Homo sapiens: one gene and its partners. The protein of the gene in region 1 interacts with the protein of each later gene in a pairwise test. Each region holds a gene or a part of one and is shown on either strand. Other genes may lie near its edges. The genes, in order: ASB13, NUDT3 and HAPLN2.

Region 1 (9,064 bases):
AGGGGATGGGGTGCGCTCGGTGGGGTGTCTCACTTTCGTAGTACTCGAAGCACTTGGCGGGAGCGCTGCTGCTCCACGTGTAGTCAGACGGCTTCTTCCCGCGGTTGTCCCGGGCGTAGATGTTGCCGCCAAACTCGATAAGCATCTCGATGAGGTCAACATTCTTGACCTTGGCCGCGTGGTGAAGGGCAGTCTCATGAAGCTTTGCCGCATTCACGTTGGCCCCTGGAGGTCAAGAGTGCAGAAGAGATTTCACCAAGAAGAGAACTTGAAGTCAGGGGGACAATCAGGTCCGTTTCGTCACACAGCACGGTGGCAGAAGCAATCCCCACCCAGAAGACAAAATCAGGACAGACTCTACCGTAGCTTTCAAAAATGTTTTTCAACATCCAAAAGCAGGAACTACTTACTGTCCCCACTCATGAGAGATAAAGGTAGGCAGCAATAATAAAGAAATAACTAGAAATAGAACCGAAAAGAAGAAAAATAAAACGAAAAATGTCCTGAGTTAAACAACCGTTCTAATGCCCTATCAATCTGCCTTCAGGGGTCCTGAGATTTCCGGAAGCTCAAACCAGAGCCACTCAAGCACTCCCGCCTGGCCTCCAGCACAGACACACACTGCTTCTTCCTCTTGCGGGCCCAGGACGGAGGCTCCAGAAATACTGGTTGAATGAAAGAATAAATGTTCCTTAACAATGCATATTCTTTTACAAAAGGAAAACAGATAACGTACCCAAAACAGTAGGCAATTCAGAGAAGAGAGTAAGCTCTGCACTCCTCAACTTTCTCACGATAAGAGCAGACATTCATCAAGCTGATTAAAAGTAAAGGTAAAAAAAAATTTTTTTTTAAAAAAAAGAGCAGACATTCAGAAAGATGCAAGGAATTAGTAGCTAAATATGGCTGGTTTTGGGTTTTTTTTTTTGAGACAGAGTCTCACTCTGTTGCCCAGGCTGGAGTGCAGTGACATGATCTCGGCTCACTGCAACCTCCGCCTCCAGGGTTCAAGCGATTCTCCTGCCTCAGCCTCCCGAGTTGCTGGGATGACAGGTGTGCCACCATGCCCGGCTAATTTTTCTATTTTTTGTAGAGACGGGGTTTTGCCGTGTTGGCCAGGTTGGTCTCGAACTCCTGGCTACGGGCATGAGCCACCACACCTGGTCACATATGGCATTTTGCAACACACTAAAAAAAATTTTGATAAAAATATGATTTTTGTAACACATCATTCTTAGGGCACAGCCATCACTGATCCGATACAATGGAATCCCCCAGGGCTTCAGAATTCTTTTGAAAGAAAATGCCATTTTATTCGAAGTCTGTTCCTCAAGTAACAAAGGAGGTTATAAGAGAAAACAAATAAAAGAGAAGTGTTTTAAAGAAGCCAAGCAAATCGCCCAGCATCAGTAAAATAATTCGCCAAATGATAGATTCAAACCACAAACATAAAGTATTATCAAAAGTGGGATTTTAAAACAATCAGACACTAGCATGCCATCACTTCCCGACAGTCTCAGAGGGTCAAAAGAGGAGCTGAGAGGTGGAACGCTTTTACATTTTCTAGTTCCTCTAGCTCAAAAAGCATCGGAAAAATCCCGCTTTCTGCTTTAAAATATTTTAATCCCCTAAAAGCACATAAGAACCATGCTCATAACAGCATTCGTGGAGGGATCCTAAGAACGCCCCAGCCCTCCAAAGTGATGACATAATTTAAGAAAGTTCTTTCCACTTCCCGCAGCCAAAACTCAGAAGTCAGAACAGGAAAAGGATCTCTCAACTAGGAAAAATGCTAACTTATCTATGTCCTGAATTTGGCAGAAATGTACTACAAAAAAATAATATTCAAAAGCAATAGATTAAAGAAATATTTCCCCACAATTCAACCTCTCTTTCACATAAGGGGTTTTCCTCCAGTATAATGTTGCAATCATAACACGAAGTAAATTTTAACACTAAACATATGCTTGTAATGAAAAACAAATTGTACCATCCACAGAATCTAAAGTTCAAGTAGCTTTCTCTCATGTCATTAATTCTGGCAATATTCTTGCCAATTGGGAGAGAAAGAGATGGTCTCTATTTTAACAAAAGAAGAAAAACAGAGAAAGAGGCCCAAGGGAGGCACAGCTACTCTCTCACGATCAGGGAGAAAACCATGGCTGGAAAGAGCTCTAAAAATCACGCTCCCTGCCACGCTCCACAGACGAGGCCTTGGCCAGGGGCTCTTGCAGGGAGGCAGCCTTCCCAATGTACATCTTTTCAAAATGTGTGTTTGGCATCATTTGATTGGGTGGAAGGGAAGGAAGGTGAATAAGGAAGGAAATGAAATTGTGAATAAGGGATTGAAGGGAAACACCAGGCCAGGGGTGCAGGCAGCTACATGGATGGATCCTGAAAGTATAGCACTGAGTGAGCCAAGAAGAGAGTCAGAGATGAAACTCGATCAGCTATGTTCATTAAAAATATATGCTTGGGCCAGGTACAGGGCTCACGCCTGTAATCTCAGCACTTTGGGAATTCGAGGCGAGCGGATCTCTTGGGCCCAGGAAATCGAGACCAGCCTGCGCAACATAGTGAGACCCTAGCTCTACAAAAATTTAAAAATTACCCGGGGGGCGTGATGGCACACATCTGTGGTCCCACCTACTCTGGAGGCTGAGGTAGGAGGATCACTTGAGCCCGGGAGGTTGAGGCTGCAGCAAGCCACGATCGTACCACTGCACTCCAGCCTGGATGACAGAGTGAGGCCCATAGTGAGAAAGAGAACATAAACAGGTACTCGTTAGAGGAAAACAGGGCCAGACACGGTGGCTCATGCCTGTAATCCCAGCACTTTGAGAGCCTGAGGCGGGCAGATCACCTGAGGTCAGGAGTTCAAGACCAGCCTAGCCAATATGGTGAAACCTCGTCTCTACTAAAAATCCAAAAATTACCTGGGCGTGGTGGTGCACATCTATAATCCCAGCTACTCAGGAGGCTCAGGCATGAGAATCGCTTGAACCAGGGAGATGGAGGCTGCAGTGAGCAGAGATCACACCACTGCACTCCAGCCTGGGTGACAGAACGAGACTCCATCTCAGAAAAAAAAGAAAGAAAGAAGGGAACAGATACAGAGGAAAGAAGGAAGAGAGAAAGAGGGTAGGAGAGGGAAAGAAAGTAACTTTGTGTGAAGCAAGGATGGTAACATACCTTGAACTGAGAGGCAAGAGAAAGACTGAGGCAGAGACAGAGACACAGAGACAGAGAGAGACAAAGACAGGGAGCCAGGAAACAAGCAGGGAATTAAAAGCTCTGAACTTCGTGCTTCAGAGAAAAGGGGTCAACACAGGCTCATTACCAAAATCCTGCTTTCAACACAAAATAGGATTAAAGTGGATTCAGAGAACCCGTGGCCAGTGACGTGACGGGACCGCCTAAGACCTTAGCACGCCAAGACTGGCACAATCCTGGAACATAAACACAAATAGCTCAATAGGTGCTTGTTACCACAAGAGAAATTGAAAAAAAAAATTAAATTTAAAAAATTATAATTAAAAAATTTTTTAAAAATTAAACAACAATTTTAAAAAAATTTTTTAAATTGTGCCAGGGCCAGTGCTAAGAACAAAGGTGGAAGCAGGACCGTCCTCAGGGAGCCGCTTCCGAACACTCCTGGCAGAGTTCAACATTCACTGTCAGTGATCAGATTAAAAATTACTTCACCATCATAACCGGACTTTCACCCTCCCCAGCCCTCCTCCTTTGCAAATACAATCTGGTTCCTGGACTCGCCTCACTGCCTACAAAGAACAAGAACAACGGTCTCCACGTCCCCCGTGGGGTGCAACGTGGCTCTGCCTCACAGCTCAGCTCTCAAACCGCACATGAAAGCACCTGCACTCATGTGGGCCCCGACTGGTTCAATCCCTCTCCCCTCTCCACAGTAACTGGTTCAAATGATCCAGGCTTGAGCCGATCAGAATTTGGCAAAGTTTGGGCAAAGGGACTGGGGAGGGGTGCAGGAAAAGGGACTTTCCACTCTTCTGTTTTTCTAGAGACACGGTCCCTGGCTTTCCTTTGGTTTCCCGAGGGATCTGTGACCTGACCCCAAAAGATCAGAATCACTACTTTTTAAAAATCTGTTTGTGAGGACGTAGGGGATGCTGTTGTTTCTCTCTCCTCTGTATGTTTGAAATTTTCCGCAATGAAAAAATGGTTTCTAAGAAGAAGATGATGATCCATCTGCTCTCACAAGGGGTACTAGAGGAGACCACCCAAGAGTAGGATGGGAACCAGGAATCCCGCGTGGAGCTGATGGCTGGATGCTACCCACAGCATCGAGCCAACACCAACAGTCACTGTGCGGAGGCTTCCCCAAGAAAGCCACGTTCACCTCTAACTCCCCAGGGGCATGCAAACTCCCGGGGAGAGCTGTGGGAACCCCACTTTAGGGCGACAGTGGGCCTCACAGCTGCCCCTTCCTTTCCAGCCCCCACCCCCGACTGTGCTGCCACCTGGTAATGTGGTGGGGGCGGGAGCAGACCTGACTTCAGCTCCAGCGTGGGTCCCGCCTAGTCCAATCCCTCTCCCCTGACCACAGTAATTAGTTCTAATGACCCAGGCTTCAGCCCATCAGAATTTGGCAAAGTTTGGGCAAAGGGACTGGGGAGGGGTGTGTGAAAAGGGATTTTCCACTCCGCTGAAAGAGCCTCCAGAAGGCTTAAAACAGGAAACGTCTGGCGTGTAGGCCTGAAGCCACTGCAGCCCCGTGACCTTGCTCAGGGAGGCCGGAGGCTTAGGATGAAGCCAATACTGAGGAAAGCAGAATCGCAACGTTCAAAGAAACTGAGGCCTGGGTGACACCACGGAACCTCCGGTCCAGCCGCCCCTAATCCTGCTCTGCGTCTCAGCCCTGAAGTCACCTGAACTAGAAATGCCCGCCATTGTTTACCAGTGGAAGTGGCTTCCTGTTACTCGCAAAGGTGTCCAACTGACATGAAGTCCTAACTGATACAGAAAGGATGTTTGCTTTAAACACTAAGTTGATCCCTTTCCCTACAACCACACCAAACAGAACGAAGGTAAAAATGGAACTCGTGTGTACTGAGCTCATAAAGGCTTGATATGAACGCACTGCGCTGTGTTCATAGAAACGGATCCAGCTGCCAGAGGAACGGCTCGGCTGGAAACGCTTACACCTGCTTCCAATGGAGATACTTCTAAGACAGTGTATAAAAAAATTAAAAGTACCTCAACAACTATTCCTACACAAAACGAATCTTTTCCACTAAAAAGACTGAAAAGTGGCACATGAAAGTGAGTAAGATTCTCCAATAAAAAACTACACATAACTAAGCTCAAATGGCTGTCATCAGGGGGAATTCATGATCTTCCTGTTCCCAAACAGGTTTGTTCTTGTTGTTAAGAGAAGGGGACTTGCTATGTTTCCCAGGCTGGCTGAAACTCCCGGGCTCAAGCAATCCTCCCGCCTCAGCCTCCCAAAGTGCTGAGACTATGGCTGTGAGCCACAGTGCCCAGCCATCCTAAACAGTTTTGTTTTTATCCTACACTACACCCAGAATTTGGATAAGATGATGAAACTAAAATTTTCCCTCAACAAAACATTTAAGTTGGGTTGATAAAAACCCTGTGCTAACAGTCACTTTGGCTAAAACTTTTGGTATAGACAGGTCCTGAGCCTAATCCTCGATTGGTTGGTCTTTTTGGTTTTGATTTTTTTCCCTCTTTGGGAATCTCAATCCTGAGTCTTTTCGAACACCCGACAATGGCCTGGATTCCAAATGCTCCATATTCTCCTAAACGCTGCCAACTCCACTTCCCATTACATCCCCTTCTCTCTTGGATTCAGGCAGCAACCTCACCAGGCAGCTGTGGGGACAGTGGCCTGTGATCTCTAGAAATAATCATTGGCATCTGTTGAGTACCTACTAGGACACACCAGGCACCGGGGAAACATCCTCAGTTCTCCCAGCAACCTGCAGCATAGATTCTTCCAGTGTTACAGATATGTAAACTGAGGCCCGAGGTCTCAGCTGGCAAGTAAGAGAGCCAGCCTCCAACCCTGGTCCCTCTGACTCCTCTACCCAGCTCTCTGCTAGGCACAGTAAATACCTGTTCAGGTAAATGCTCGTGCAAGTAAACACCTGCTCAGGTGAACAGCCTTGCAAGTATATACCCATTCAGGCAAACTTCTCAGATAAATCCATAAATACACACTCTGCAGGTAAACACCCACTCAGGCAAACACCCACTCAGGCAAACACCCACTCAGGCAAACACCCACTCAGGTAAACACCTACTCAGGCAAACACCCACTCAGGTAAACACCCACGCAGGCAAACACCCACGCAGGCAAACACCCACTCAGGTAAACACCCACACAGGTAAACACCCACTCAGGTAAACAACCACGCGGGTAAACACTCACGGGGGTAAACACCCACTCAGGTAAACACCCACGCAGGCAAACACCCACTCAGGTAAACACCCACGCAGGCAAACACCCACTCAGGTAAACACCCACTCAGGTAAACACCCACGTGGGCAAACACCCACTCAGGTAAACACCCACTCAGGCAAACACCCCCTCGGGTAAACACCCACGTGGGCAACACCCACGGGGGTAAACACCCATGCAGGCAAACACCCACTCAGGCAAACACCCCCTTGGGTAAACACCCACTCAGGCAAACACCCACTCAGGTAAACACCCACGCAGGCAAACACCCACTCAGGTAAACACCCACTCGGGCAAACACCCACTCGGGTAAACACCCACGCGGGCAAACACCTACTCAGGTAAACACCCACTCAGGTAAACACCCACGCAGGCAAACACCCACGCAGGCAAACACCCCCTCGGGTAAACACCCACGGGGGTAAACAACCACGCAGGTAAACACCCACGCGGGCAAACACCCACTCGGGCAAACACCCCCTCGGGTAAACACCCACGCGGGCAAACACCCCCGGGGGTAAACACCCACGCAGGTAAACACCCACACGGGCAAACACCCACTCAGGCAAACACCCACTGGGGTAAACACCCACGCGGGCAAACACCCACTCCGGTAAACACCCACGCGGGCAAACATCCACTCCGGTAAACACCCACTCGGGTAAACACCCACTCGGGCAAACACCCACTTGGGCAAACACCCACGCAGGTAAACACCCGCTCGGGCAAACACCCACTCAGGTAAACACCCGCTCGGGCAAACACCCACTCACCTGCATTGAGCAGCACTTTGACACAGTCCAGATGCTCCCGGGCACAGGCAACGTGCAGAGGGGTCCCAAAATGGCAATCGTGCGCTTCCAGATTGGCCCCGACGTCAATAAGAAGCCTCACACATTCGGAACTCCCTTAAGATAAATGGAAAAGGGGGGGAATGTCCTTGAATACGGACACTGGAGACAACAAGCACACAGACGCGGCAGGGGCAGCAGCCTCCATCCTTGGTGCAGGGCAGGGAAGCCAGGCAGGCCTGCGTCCCAACCTAGGGAGGAGTTCATGACCCGCATGGCCCTCAGGAAGCCAGGACACGGCTCTGCGCCCCGCTGAGGACGGAGGGCTCAAGGCAGTGGGAGAAACGGGCCTGGCCGGCTTCTTGCTGTGAGAACAGAAGACATGGGGCACCACCTAGAATGGGTCAGGGAAAACTCCCCCGCTGCCCCCCTGCCCTGTGTCTACCTGCGGCTGTCAGCACTGAGCCCAGCCTCCCAGGAAACCCCCCAGACTTTCTTATGCAGGTCATCCTCCTGTGCACCACGGCAGCCGCCTCTCCTGCCTCTTTTTTTTTTTTAGACAAAGTCTCATTCTGTTGCCCAGGATGGAATGCAGTGGTGCGATCTCAGCTCACTACAACCGCCATCTCCCGGGTTAAAGCGATTCTCCCACCTCAGCCTCCCAAATAGCTGGAATTACAGGCATGCACCACCGTGCCCGACTAATTTTTTTGTATTTTTAGTAGAGACAGGGTTTCACCATGTGCCAGGCTGGTCTCAAACTCCTGACCTCAGGTGATCCGCCCACCTCAGCCTCCCAAAGTGCTGGGATTACCAAGGGCATGAGCCACAGCGCCCGGCCTCTCCTGCCTCTTAAGTGGCTCCTCTTCCTGGGTCTGTAATGCGGATTTGGAGCGGGGTTCCAGGCCCCCCATCCTCCCGCCCCTGCACATTCCGTCTAGGCTCCAACCTTTCCGTTCACTCAATTACCTCTTCACTGTTGGCAGCTCCCTAATTTTCCCCACCAGCCTCACACCCAGCCCCAGCCCCAGAGCCATGTGCTGGCCACCGGCCGGTGTCTCCCACTCTAGAGCCCTCTCCCTTTCCTGGGGTCCTTGCTCCTGACTCAAACCTGACTCATTTCTGACCTCTTGAGCCTCCCCTTCATACGAAATCCTATGGATTCCTTCCCCAACCCTACTAAATGAAACCATCCCACTCCACCAGCCTACTCTGAGCACTGGGCACCTTGATCTCAGCGATGGTCCCCAACTCATCCCTCTGCTTCCAGGAGACCCCAGCCACCACTGCACCTCCGTCTATCTGCACATGGAGGACCACTAAATGAACCTTCCCCAAATTCTGTTTTCCTGACCCTCGACATCTGCTCAGAAACCTTCAAGAGCTCCCTGGAGCTGTCCCATGGCCTGCAGACATGGAAAGACCTACGAGCAGGAATCAGGGGTGAGCCACATGCAGCCATGGCCCTGCCAGCACCGTGGAAGGGCACATACCCCATACCCTGCACCCCAGATGTGCATCCAAAGACAAAGGCCATGCTGGCCGGTCAAGATATAAGCCACAGTTTGCAACCTCTGCTCGAAAGAGTAGAATCTAAACTCCTTAGTCTGTCATTTAAACATCTTCCCACCAGCTGGTCTCACCCTAAATTCCAGTCCTCTCTGCTCCACTGGGAGCTTCTGATGCAGTAAGATAGGACAAGGAATGTTCCCCATGCTCGGGGTGCCCTTTTATCTTCCCAGCATCTGCAGTCTGCCTATTCTTGGGGGGCAGATGAGGTCCCACCTGCTCCCTGAGCCTGCAGGACCAGCAC
Region 2 (5,491 bases), on another chromosome or scaffold:
AGAAATAATAGGTATTTGTTAGACCTGAGTGTACATTTCACATGTTATCCTTCACATATTTCTCATTTTCATCTAGTACTTTCTTAATGCCTTTGTTGGAGTCCGCATCCTCATCTTTAAAAAAAAAAAAAAAAAAACAGCTTAGCCTAAGCCACATTCACTTTTTTTAGTTCACAAAAAGGATTTAATAGCCACAATGTGATTTTTGCCACAACTGTGTGATTTTAATATTCTCTAATATCAAGGGCGGATTTAGAATTGCAGGAAATACCTGGAGAAATCACAGTGGAATGAATTTTTGCTTTAAGAGAAATGAGAGTTGGCTGTCTCTGTAATTGATAATACAGCTTCATCCTAGTCCCATCTGCATTTCAGAAAATAACCCTCATCTTTACAAAACACAGGACACTTGTGGGACAGTTAACTCAAGCAGCTATGGGGAGGGAGGAGATTATTGAATGGTGATTAAATAATGCAAATGGCTCTTCTGTTTCTTAAAGACTGTGGAAGAGGTCAGACTGCCCAGTTGAGGTGGGCAGTTCATACTGCTCAGTTGAGGTGGCAGTCATTTATTCTGAGTCCTGTTGGATAGAGCCTATCTCCTCAAGGCTACAGAGGCTTCCAGGATATGGAGCTGTGCATGTTAATGGCTCAGCCTTGCCTCCATCAGGGCACCTGCCTAACTTGGAGCAAGTGGGAGAGCACCCTAGAGTCATCCTCTGTGCTGTTTCGTGAGTTTTGCAGCGGAGACTTCACCATCCGGAGGAGCTGTGTTTCTGTGTCACTTGGGATATCACCTAAAAATGAAACATTTGATATTTTAAGGTATAAAAAAAAAGTAAATTGGGGAACATTGGCTGCAGTCCCTAAAAGATACTGTTGTCTGTGCATCAGGTTAGCTTGAGGTCACCACAGGTCCTGGGAGCCCAGAGAGTTTAGGCATACTCTCCTTTGGAGGCCAGCAGCCTTTCACAAACCCTGCCTCTAAAAGGGCGGTTTCACATTTGACCATGTTTTTGCATTAGCCTCAGAAACTCTTGTCTTTAGCTGATAACCTTTGAGGGATGTGAGAAGCCTAGTTGGAGCATCTGAGAAAATGATACCTCTCACCTTCAAATTAATCAAATAGTTTGTCCTTCTAGTCCCCTTATAAATTAATAAATGGAGGGCTGGTCATGGTGGCTCACGCCTGTAATCCCAGCACTTTGGGAGGCCGAGGCGGGTGGATCACAAGGTCAGGAGTTCAAGACCAGCCTGACCAATATGGTGAAACCCCATCTCTACTAAAAATACAAAAATTAGCCAGGTGTAGTGGCACGCTCCTGTAGTCCCAGCTACTCGGGAGGCTGAGGCAGGAGAATCGCTTGAACCCAGGAGGTGGATGTTGCAGTGAGCCGAGATCCCGCCACTGCACTGCAGCCTAGGCGACAGAGCAAGACTCCGTCTCAAAAAAAAAAAAAAAAAAAAGAAAAGGGAAGGGAATCCCATTTTGTGATGATTTGGGCACACTACTTGAGCTGAGGCTAGCAGTCACATGATTTTGGCTGTCTCTGACCTGAAGCTTTTGAAGTAAGGTTATGTCTCTTCCCTGAAGCTTTGTTTATAGTGGTAATTTGGTGAGTTTGAGCTTTGAGCTTGTCTTAGAAAATAAGACTGTCCACCTGGGGAGGGGAGCTTATAGGGAACCCGTGTTAACTCAGAATGCTGAAGAAAGTGCTTTTAGCCAACAAAAGTAAGATTACTATCTAGAAGGTGGAAAGAAGTCATTGCTTCTGTTCCTCCAGCAGTCAGTTGACTCTAGGTTTCCTTTGGTTTATATCCCCAGTTCTTAATACTAAAACTTATTTGACTTCCTATCAGGAAGCACACAAAAAAAGCGTCATTTAAAACCCTGGATATAGGCTTTAAAGGATACAAAAACAGCAGCATTGTCGTTTTGCCAGGTTCATCACCATTTTGATGTGCTACCCATCCTTCCACCCTCCCTTTCCTGCCCCCAAGCCTCCCAGCCAGGCCAGATGTGAAGATTCTATTAATCACTGTTTCAGAGAACATTAATTCTTGTATAGAATAATTATCTACTAAATTGCTTATTATCTGTGACTACCTTGCAGAGAACATCTCAACAGTGCAGTAAAATAGCTCTCCTAGACTTGAGCTTCCAGCCAGGCATTTAGATCACTCTTAAGCCTTTGTGGAATTCTGAGGAAAAAAAGCAAGATGCCTCAATGCCAATGCTGGGCCATAAGATTCTACTCCCCTCCCTGTAGGGTGGGGCGCGTGGCTCAGCTTTGGAAAATCATTTTGCCAGTAATATTGCCTGTGAATCCCTTTAAGAAGTCGTCCTGATCTGAGCCTGTCTTTCTGAGCACTTTGGTGCTGAATTGAAAATGGTAAGCTAAAGCAGTGACAGATCCACGTAGCCTCTTTAACCTCTTTATTATCTTGCCAAAAAAAAAGTTTCTCAGGTTAAACCTTTGTCTTTAACCTCCCTTTGTTGTGGAGAAAATGTGTCACTAATCAGTGGTCCAAGGGATATCTAGCTTTGGTTACTCAGTTCCTGCAGCATAACAGATATGACTTATGCCAGGGAAGGTAGAGGCTGATTATGGAGACACCCAGGAACAGGAATAAGAAGGGATAGGTCTGCTCCACGTAGAACCTCCCCAGATCGGAAGTTAAGTCTTGGAGAGTTTCCAAAGTGCTGAAGTAAAAAGGAGACTTGGAGGGCCTTTGCTTAATGAGCAAGAGGCTTGTGTCCTCCCAAGAACATGAGGGAGTTCAGAAGGGAGCTATAGCTCACAGACAGAAACCTGCCCGCTCACCCCATCCCTCGTGACTGGGAGCATGTTTGCTCAGAATTTTCTAAGAGGACTCTCCCTTCAAAAATCCAATTTGCTCCCAGAATGTTGTTTAGCCTCTGAGAATCTCACTCTTTCATTTCCATCTGTGAATGGACATAGATGTGTTGCTCAGGGATCAGAAACATCAGAGTCCAGGGCCCAGTGGCATGGTGTTGCATTAGTAGTTAGAAAAGTAATTGGTCAGCTCTACTGTAAAAGAAATAAGTATGTAGTACAGTTTTGTAAATGTCAGGTCTGTTCTATTGTTTTGTGATCTGAAGACTGTCAAACTGGTTGATAATCAAAGAAAAGGTTGGTGGTTAGAATAAGTAAAATTTCAGTTAGAAAGATATAGCTTACCAGTTTTCCATGTGCTTAAGGAAGTCAAGAATATTTCAGGTTGTTGAGAACTGTTGTAAAATGGAATTGAAGCTAGTGTCTCTCACCTTCTTAGGTGTATCAGAGAGAGGAAGTGGAAGGCCAGTAGTAGCATCTTCATACTTACTTTTGCCAGCCCAGCCTCCATTTCAAAGACTTTGTCTTCCATCCTATCCAATGACATGGTCAGGGATGGGCTCTGAGGAGGCAGTGAGGCCCCACCTTGGTTTGCTCCACTGTGGTGTGTAGTCTCCAAACAGCTTAAGGGTTTTTAAGTTTTCTCACGATTACCTCCACTCCACTCATCTACTATCAGCATCAGAAAGGTTAACATCCCTGGGACCATTCTACTTATAAAAGAGATGAACTAGTGTGCTTTCTCCCCTTTTCCAGGTGTGCCATCCATATACAATCTCCTCTTGGCCAAGTTCAACAAATGTTTCCAGGGAACCCCGTGGGTTGAGGCAAAGTAGCCAAGATGTATTGAGTTAAGTTTTTCTAGAGGACAAAAGTATTTCTTGTCCCTTTTCCCTCATGCTCATATGTTTTAGCTGAGGCGTAAATGGCCAAGTTGAGTAATATCTGTGGAACTGAGACAGAGAGCCAGGGACCCATGTACCCAGGGACCAGTCCCCTGGGGAATCACACAGTGGCTCAGACTAGACTGCTCTATCCCACCAGAACTCTGCTGCTGTTCATTTCCATCAGGACCACCCAGGAAAGCAAATAAGTTAGCCTTCTCATCATTAGGTCACCTAATCTCTTGGGTTGCAGGATGAGAGCATATATAGATCTCCTGTTTAGAGAGTGTGTTCATAATTGTAGAAAGGGATAGAAAATGGAATAACCAAGAGGCTGTGTCATTTTTTAAGAGGATGGCAAGGATGACCTCAAATGAGCTCAACAAAACTGGGAATCCAAGGAATGGTGCTTGTAGGGAAAGAGAGGTCAGTTGTGGTCCTTAAACCTCTTGGCACCTTGTGCGGGTTATAAAACAAGGAGCTGGAGTAAAATTGCCCTTACCCCCAATCCAAATGCTGTCCAGGATTTAGGAGCTACCCAACCTGTGGTTATATGGTGTTGGTTTCCATTTTTTGTTTGTTTGCTTGTTTCCAAAATAGCCTTGCTTGGTACTGCATGGAAAGTTCAAGCTTTTCTTCTTGCCCGCTCAGGGCTGGCCTCTTCCCCGTGTCTTCACAGCGTCCCTAAGGAAGATTTTTGCAGCACTCTCTGGAGCTGAGGGGAGTGAAATTTGGTCCAGAGAAGGCGGAAGGAAATAGTTTTCCTGTTTCCTTTTCTCGAGGTGGATGTCCTCAGGCTTCCTTCACACCTCCTTCTCATGGGTGCGGCTGGCAGTACAGTCAGGCTGTGGAGGAGGGCTGAGAAGAAAGGGGCACTGGTCCAGCCCCAGGTTTGGTCTGAGACAGGTACACAGCAGATACCATCCCACCTTCCTCTCTAAAGAACAGGCCAGCCACACATATAACCCTTTCCCTACTTTACTAATGTATCCCTTATGTGGTACCAGCAATGGAGGACAGGCAGACTTACCCCCTGCCATCTAGAGAGAATGTTGTTATTACCCGTAAAACTTGACCACCCCCATATCCCACTCCTTTTTGTAAAAACAAATGCTTAAACCTGTGAGCCTGCCGTTCCTTTCTATGTGTTAATCAGTTTCCTTCCATTTGAGCTGTGTGGGAGGGAAGGGCATTGAAATTGTAGGTTGTAATCTTGTGCCAACCAATAAAAACCAGTATTTCACACACATCCCTTTTAGTGTCTGGTCTCTTCTTTCCAGAGGCTTCCCTTGAGTCCTTCATGTCAGCCTTTTGGTTTCCCCCACTCCTCTGCTAGATTCTTGGGAATTGCCCTAGAGGTCAAGGGTGACCCCATGGAAGATTTGGTGTGCAGGGCATTCAGGTGAGAAACGCAGTGGAGAAAGCCAGAGGCTATTAAAATCAGCATGTTGTTGTATCTTGCCGTCCTTGCTACCAGGTGCCGAGACAGAGCCCTGGTTAGACGGTCAGTGCCCACTGCTGAGGAGAGGGCCTGTACCCCTTAGCCAGGGAGGCTTTCTAGGGGACCCAAAGGAGTTGGAAGGGGTAAGAGGTGAGCCACATCCAGAATAAGGAAGCATCACAAGAAGTTGCTTTCTTCTGTGTGGGGTGGAATCAGGAAGGGCGGAGCCATTTTTGAAGCTGTGAGTGGTAGGGCTTGCAGGCCGAGAATGGGTGGGCATCATCAGTGGGAGAGCAGCATTAAGTGAG
Region 3 (3,811 bases), on another chromosome or scaffold:
CTGCACTCCAGTCTGGGCGAGAGAGTAAAACCCTGTCTCAAAAAAAAAAAGGTCCGCAGTCCAGCAGATCACAGTGCACTACAGTGTGGCAAACTGGGGGTGGGTAAAGGTTTCCCAAAGGAGGTGAGGCCTGTGCGACCAATGCAGGCACAAAGGAAAGGAAATGAATGCAAACTTGGACTGTGTGGGAAACTGCCAGAAATCCAGCATGTCAGGGGAACAGTGCAGAGGCCAAAGTGGTTAAGAGGCGAGGCGGGGACCATGCTGGAGGTGCAGGGAGCAACTGGATTATAGACAGCCTTGGAAGCTGTGGTTATGAGATTGGATTTTATCCTCAGGGCAACTGGGAGTCACTTTCAAGCAGGAGAGTGACAAGGCCAGGCACGGTGGCTCACGCCTGCTGTAATCCCAGCACCAGCCTTGTCAACACAGCATGACCTTGTCTCTACTAAAAACTTAAAAAGAAACAATTAGCTGGGTGTGGTGGCACATGTCTGTAGTTCCAGCTACTCAGGAGGCTGAAATGGGAGGATCACCTGGAGCTGGAAGTTAGGGGCTGCAGTGAGCCATGATCATGCCACGGGACTCCAGCCTGGACCATGGAGCAACACTCTGTCTCAAAAAAATAAATAAATAAATAAATAAATAAATAAATAAATAAATAAAATAAAAAAGCAGGAGAGTGATAAGATCATTTTGACTCTGGCTTCAAGATGGAGAATGGGTGTTGGGAGAGGATAGAGACGAGCTGGCAGTCCAGATGGCAAGCTTGGGAAGTAGCACTTGTGATGAGGGGGACAGGTAGAGAAGATGCTAAATTAGTACCTGCAGGCTGAGAGGATGTGACAGAGGAAGAGAGGGAGAGGAAGGGGATTGCTACTGCCTTCTTCCCCTCATCACCTTCATTTTGTCACCAACCCCTTTTCTCTGCCCCAGTGGCTTCCAGCTGGACAGTCCCTTCTAGGATCTCTGATGGGAGTTCACCCACAACCCTGCTCTTCCCCACCCTTTTGCCCCAGTCCTAAGAACTGCCCACTCTTTGTGCCCTGCAGACGGTGCCGGGCTGACCCCCCATCATGCCAGGCTGGCTCACCCTCCCCACACTCTGCCGCTTCCTTCTTTGGGCCTTCACCATCTTCCACAAAGCCCAAGGAGACCCAGGTAAGACCCCAGCCCAGGCCAGAATCTGGGGGAGGCTTGGGGAGACTGCAAGGGTGGGGAAAGGGGAAAGGGCAGTTGTTGCAGGTACCCAGGGACTGAAAGTCATTGCTGAGAAGGCAATGGAGGAGAGGGTTGGGGGGCTCTGGAGAAAGCATTTGGGGAGCAGGGTCTGATGGGCACTTGGGGCAGTGAGGATTGGGGGTTCCTGCCACTGTGGCCCCCTCTGCCCAGCATCCCACCCGGGCCCCCACTACCTCCTGCCCCCCATCCACGAGGTCATTCACTCTCATCGTGGGGCCACGGCCACGCTGCCCTGCGTCCTGGGCACCACGCCTCCCAGCTACAAGGTGCGCTGGAGCAAGGTGGAGCCTGGGGAGCTCCGGGAAACGCTGATCCTCATCACCAACGGACTGCACGCCCGGGGGTATGGGCCCCTGGGAGGGCGCGCCAGGATGCGGAGGGGGCATCGACTAGACGCCTCCCTGGTCATCGCGGGCGTGCGCCTGGAGGACGAGGGCCGGTACCGCTGCGAGCTCATCAACGGCATCGAGGACGAGAGCGTGGCGCTGACCTTGAGCTTGGAGGGTGAGGCCCTTCCGCTCCCGCCCCATTCCTGTGTAGCAGCGGGTCCGCCTCGCCTGGGTCTCCCAGGGCTCCTTCCCAGTATCTCCTCCGCACCCCTGGGGACCCCAGCTCCCTCTCCCAGGCCGCGCCGCCCTTCCTCCCCCTCCGCTCCCATCCGCTGGCCCTCCCCAGGATCCCCGCCACCCCCTAGGTGTGGTGTTTCCGTACCAACCCAGCCGGGGCCGGTACCAGTTCAATTACTACGAGGCGAAGCAGGCGTGCGAGGAGCAGGACGGACGCCTGGCCACCTACTCCCAGCTCTACCAGGGTGAGCGGCCGAACCCAGCACTTCCCAAGCCCCGCGGAGCTGTCTCAGGGGCCCGAGAGAGGGCGCCAGGCGAGCTCAGTCTGGCTCCTGCCTATGACGCCTCTTATCCCCGACCTCCGCCGTCTCCCGCCAGCTTGGACCGAGGGTCTGGACTGGTGTAACGCGGGCTGGCTGCTCGAGGGCTCCGTGCGCTACCCTGTGCTCACCGCACGCGCCCCGTGCGGCGGCCGAGGCCGGCCCGGGATCCGCAGCTACGGACCCCGCGACCGGATGCGCGACCGCTACGACGCCTTCTGCTTCACCTCCGCGCTGGCGGGTGAGGCGCGGGACGAAGGCAGGGTCTTGGGGAGGGGTCTGAAAAATGTGGGGGACGAGGAGTGGACCTCAGCTTGAGATCAGGGCAGGGTCTCCGGGTCCCTCCAAGGCACCGCCCCCCCATCAGCCCGCCCGCCCGCCCAGGCTCCAGCTCACCTCTCCAAACCCTCCCTGCACTTTTGCCTCGATCCCCCAACTCCTCTTACCCAAGCTCGATCCAGCACCTCTGCGGTCCCGCACCCCAACTCCGCCTCCTGGGTGTCAGCCGCCCCTCTCCGCCCACCCTGCCCTCGGTCGGTGACCCGCTGTGGTCCCCAGGCCAAGTGTTCTTCGTGCCCGGGCGGCTGACGCTGTCTGAAGCCCACGCGGCGTGCCGGCGACGCGGCGCCGTGGTGGCCAAGGTTGGGCACCTCTACGCCGCCTGGAAGTTTTCGGGGCTAGACCAGTGCGACGGCGGCTGGCTGGCTGACGGCAGTGTGCGCTTCCCAATCACCACGCCGAGGCCGCGCTGCGGGGGGCTCCCGGATCCCGGAGTGCGCAGTTTCGGCTTCCCCAGGCCCCAACAGGCAGCCTATGGGACCTACTGCTACGCCGAGAATTAGGCGCCCACCGTGTCCCCTCCAGCGCGCGCGAAGAAGCTTGGGAGTCGTGGCGGGGGTCTCTCGCCACCCCTTTCCGGAGAGCCTCCCCTCCCTCCAGACCCGGAGCGGCCTCTCCAGACCTGCCTTCCCAGCCGGGGGCTGCGGGCCTCGGACCCCGGCTGGCCCGGCGGCGGGGAGGGGAGGCGGGGGCGCCTCCGGCGGCGAGATGCAGAGGTGACCCTCGGACCCGCTGCCGTTCGCGAACCCTAGCAGAGGACTCAGCCACCGCCGGGGGGAGGGTGAGGCGGCCGGGGGCATTAACTGACCTCTGAGTACAGCAATAAAATAACCTGGGGATCTTTTGTGTTGGGTGGAGCTGTAAGAGCTGCGAGGCGTGGAGGGGTGTGTGTGTGTGTGTGTGCACGCTCATGTCGGGGCTGATGACCCGGGATCCTGCGTGCCCACTGAGCACCTAAGACAGGGTAAGGGGCAGGGCTGTTGCTGTTAAGGGATGGGTCAGCGGAAGAGCGGGAGTGCGGCCGGAGGGCACCAATAGGCCAAGGGAGAGAGAGAAGTGGAGACGTAGTGGGCGCCTGGCCCAGGACCCACGCAGAACCCAGCATGTTGTTGCGCCAGGCGCCACGCGGGGGCGCCGCACACTCACCTAAGATTAGTTCAAATCTGCCAGGGGCGCCCCATGCCACCAGGCCCACCCTATGTGCCCCAGATAACAAATATAAGACAACTTAAACATATTTCAAAATGTGCAGGCTGCAGACCTCCCTGAAGCGTTTGCGGGGACTACTGTTAAAGATAGGAAAGTCATATTGTTGCTAGAATTGACAGGAAATTAACCTTGCGT

Evidence for each region.
Region 2: the proteins of ASB13 (region 1) and NUDT3 interact in a two-hybrid assay, tested with the Homo sapiens proteins (2 studies listed by BioGRID and IntAct).
Region 3: the proteins of ASB13 (region 1) and HAPLN2 interact in binary tests that used the Homo sapiens proteins (3 or more experiments, as listed by UniProt).

The regions. Positions count from the first base shown.
Region 1 is NC_000010.11:5,641,737-5,650,800, forward strand, and holds part of ASB13 (ankyrin repeat and SOCS box protein 13), read right to left. Parts: intron 7,369-9,064; coding exon 7,234-7,368; intron 818-7,233; exon of another isoform or gene 737-817; intron 226-736; coding exon 34-225; intron 1-33. UniProt on the Homo sapiens protein: May be a substrate-recognition component of a SCF-like ECS (Elongin-Cullin-SOCS-box protein) E3 ubiquitin-protein ligase complex which mediates the ubiquitination and subsequent proteasomal degradation of target proteins.
Region 2 is NC_000006.12:34,279,179-34,284,669, reverse strand, and holds the end of NUDT3 (diphosphoinositol polyphosphate phosphohydrolase 1), read left to right. Parts: 3' UTR 1-4,991; downstream 4,992-5,491. UniProt on the Homo sapiens protein: Cleaves a beta-phosphate from the diphosphate groups in PP-InsP5 (diphosphoinositol pentakisphosphate) and [PP]2-InsP4 (bisdiphosphoinositol tetrakisphosphate), suggesting that it may play a role in signal transduction.
Region 3 is NC_000001.11:156,622,415-156,626,225, forward strand, and holds the end of HAPLN2 (hyaluronan and proteoglycan link protein 2 precursor), read left to right. Parts: intron 1-1,052; coding exon of another isoform or gene 1,053-1,076; coding exon 1,077-1,161; intron 1,162-1,392; coding exon 1,393-1,746; coding exon of another isoform or gene 1,747-1,750; exon of another isoform or gene 1,751-1,883; intron 1,884-1,936; coding exon 1,937-2,053; intron 2,054-2,186; coding exon 2,187-2,369; intron 2,370-2,686; coding exon 2,687-2,970; 3' UTR 2,971-3,311; downstream 3,312-3,811. UniProt on the Homo sapiens protein: Mediates a firm binding of versican V2 to hyaluronic acid. May play a pivotal role in the formation of the hyaluronan-associated matrix in the central nervous system (CNS) which facilitates neuronal conduction and general structural stabilization.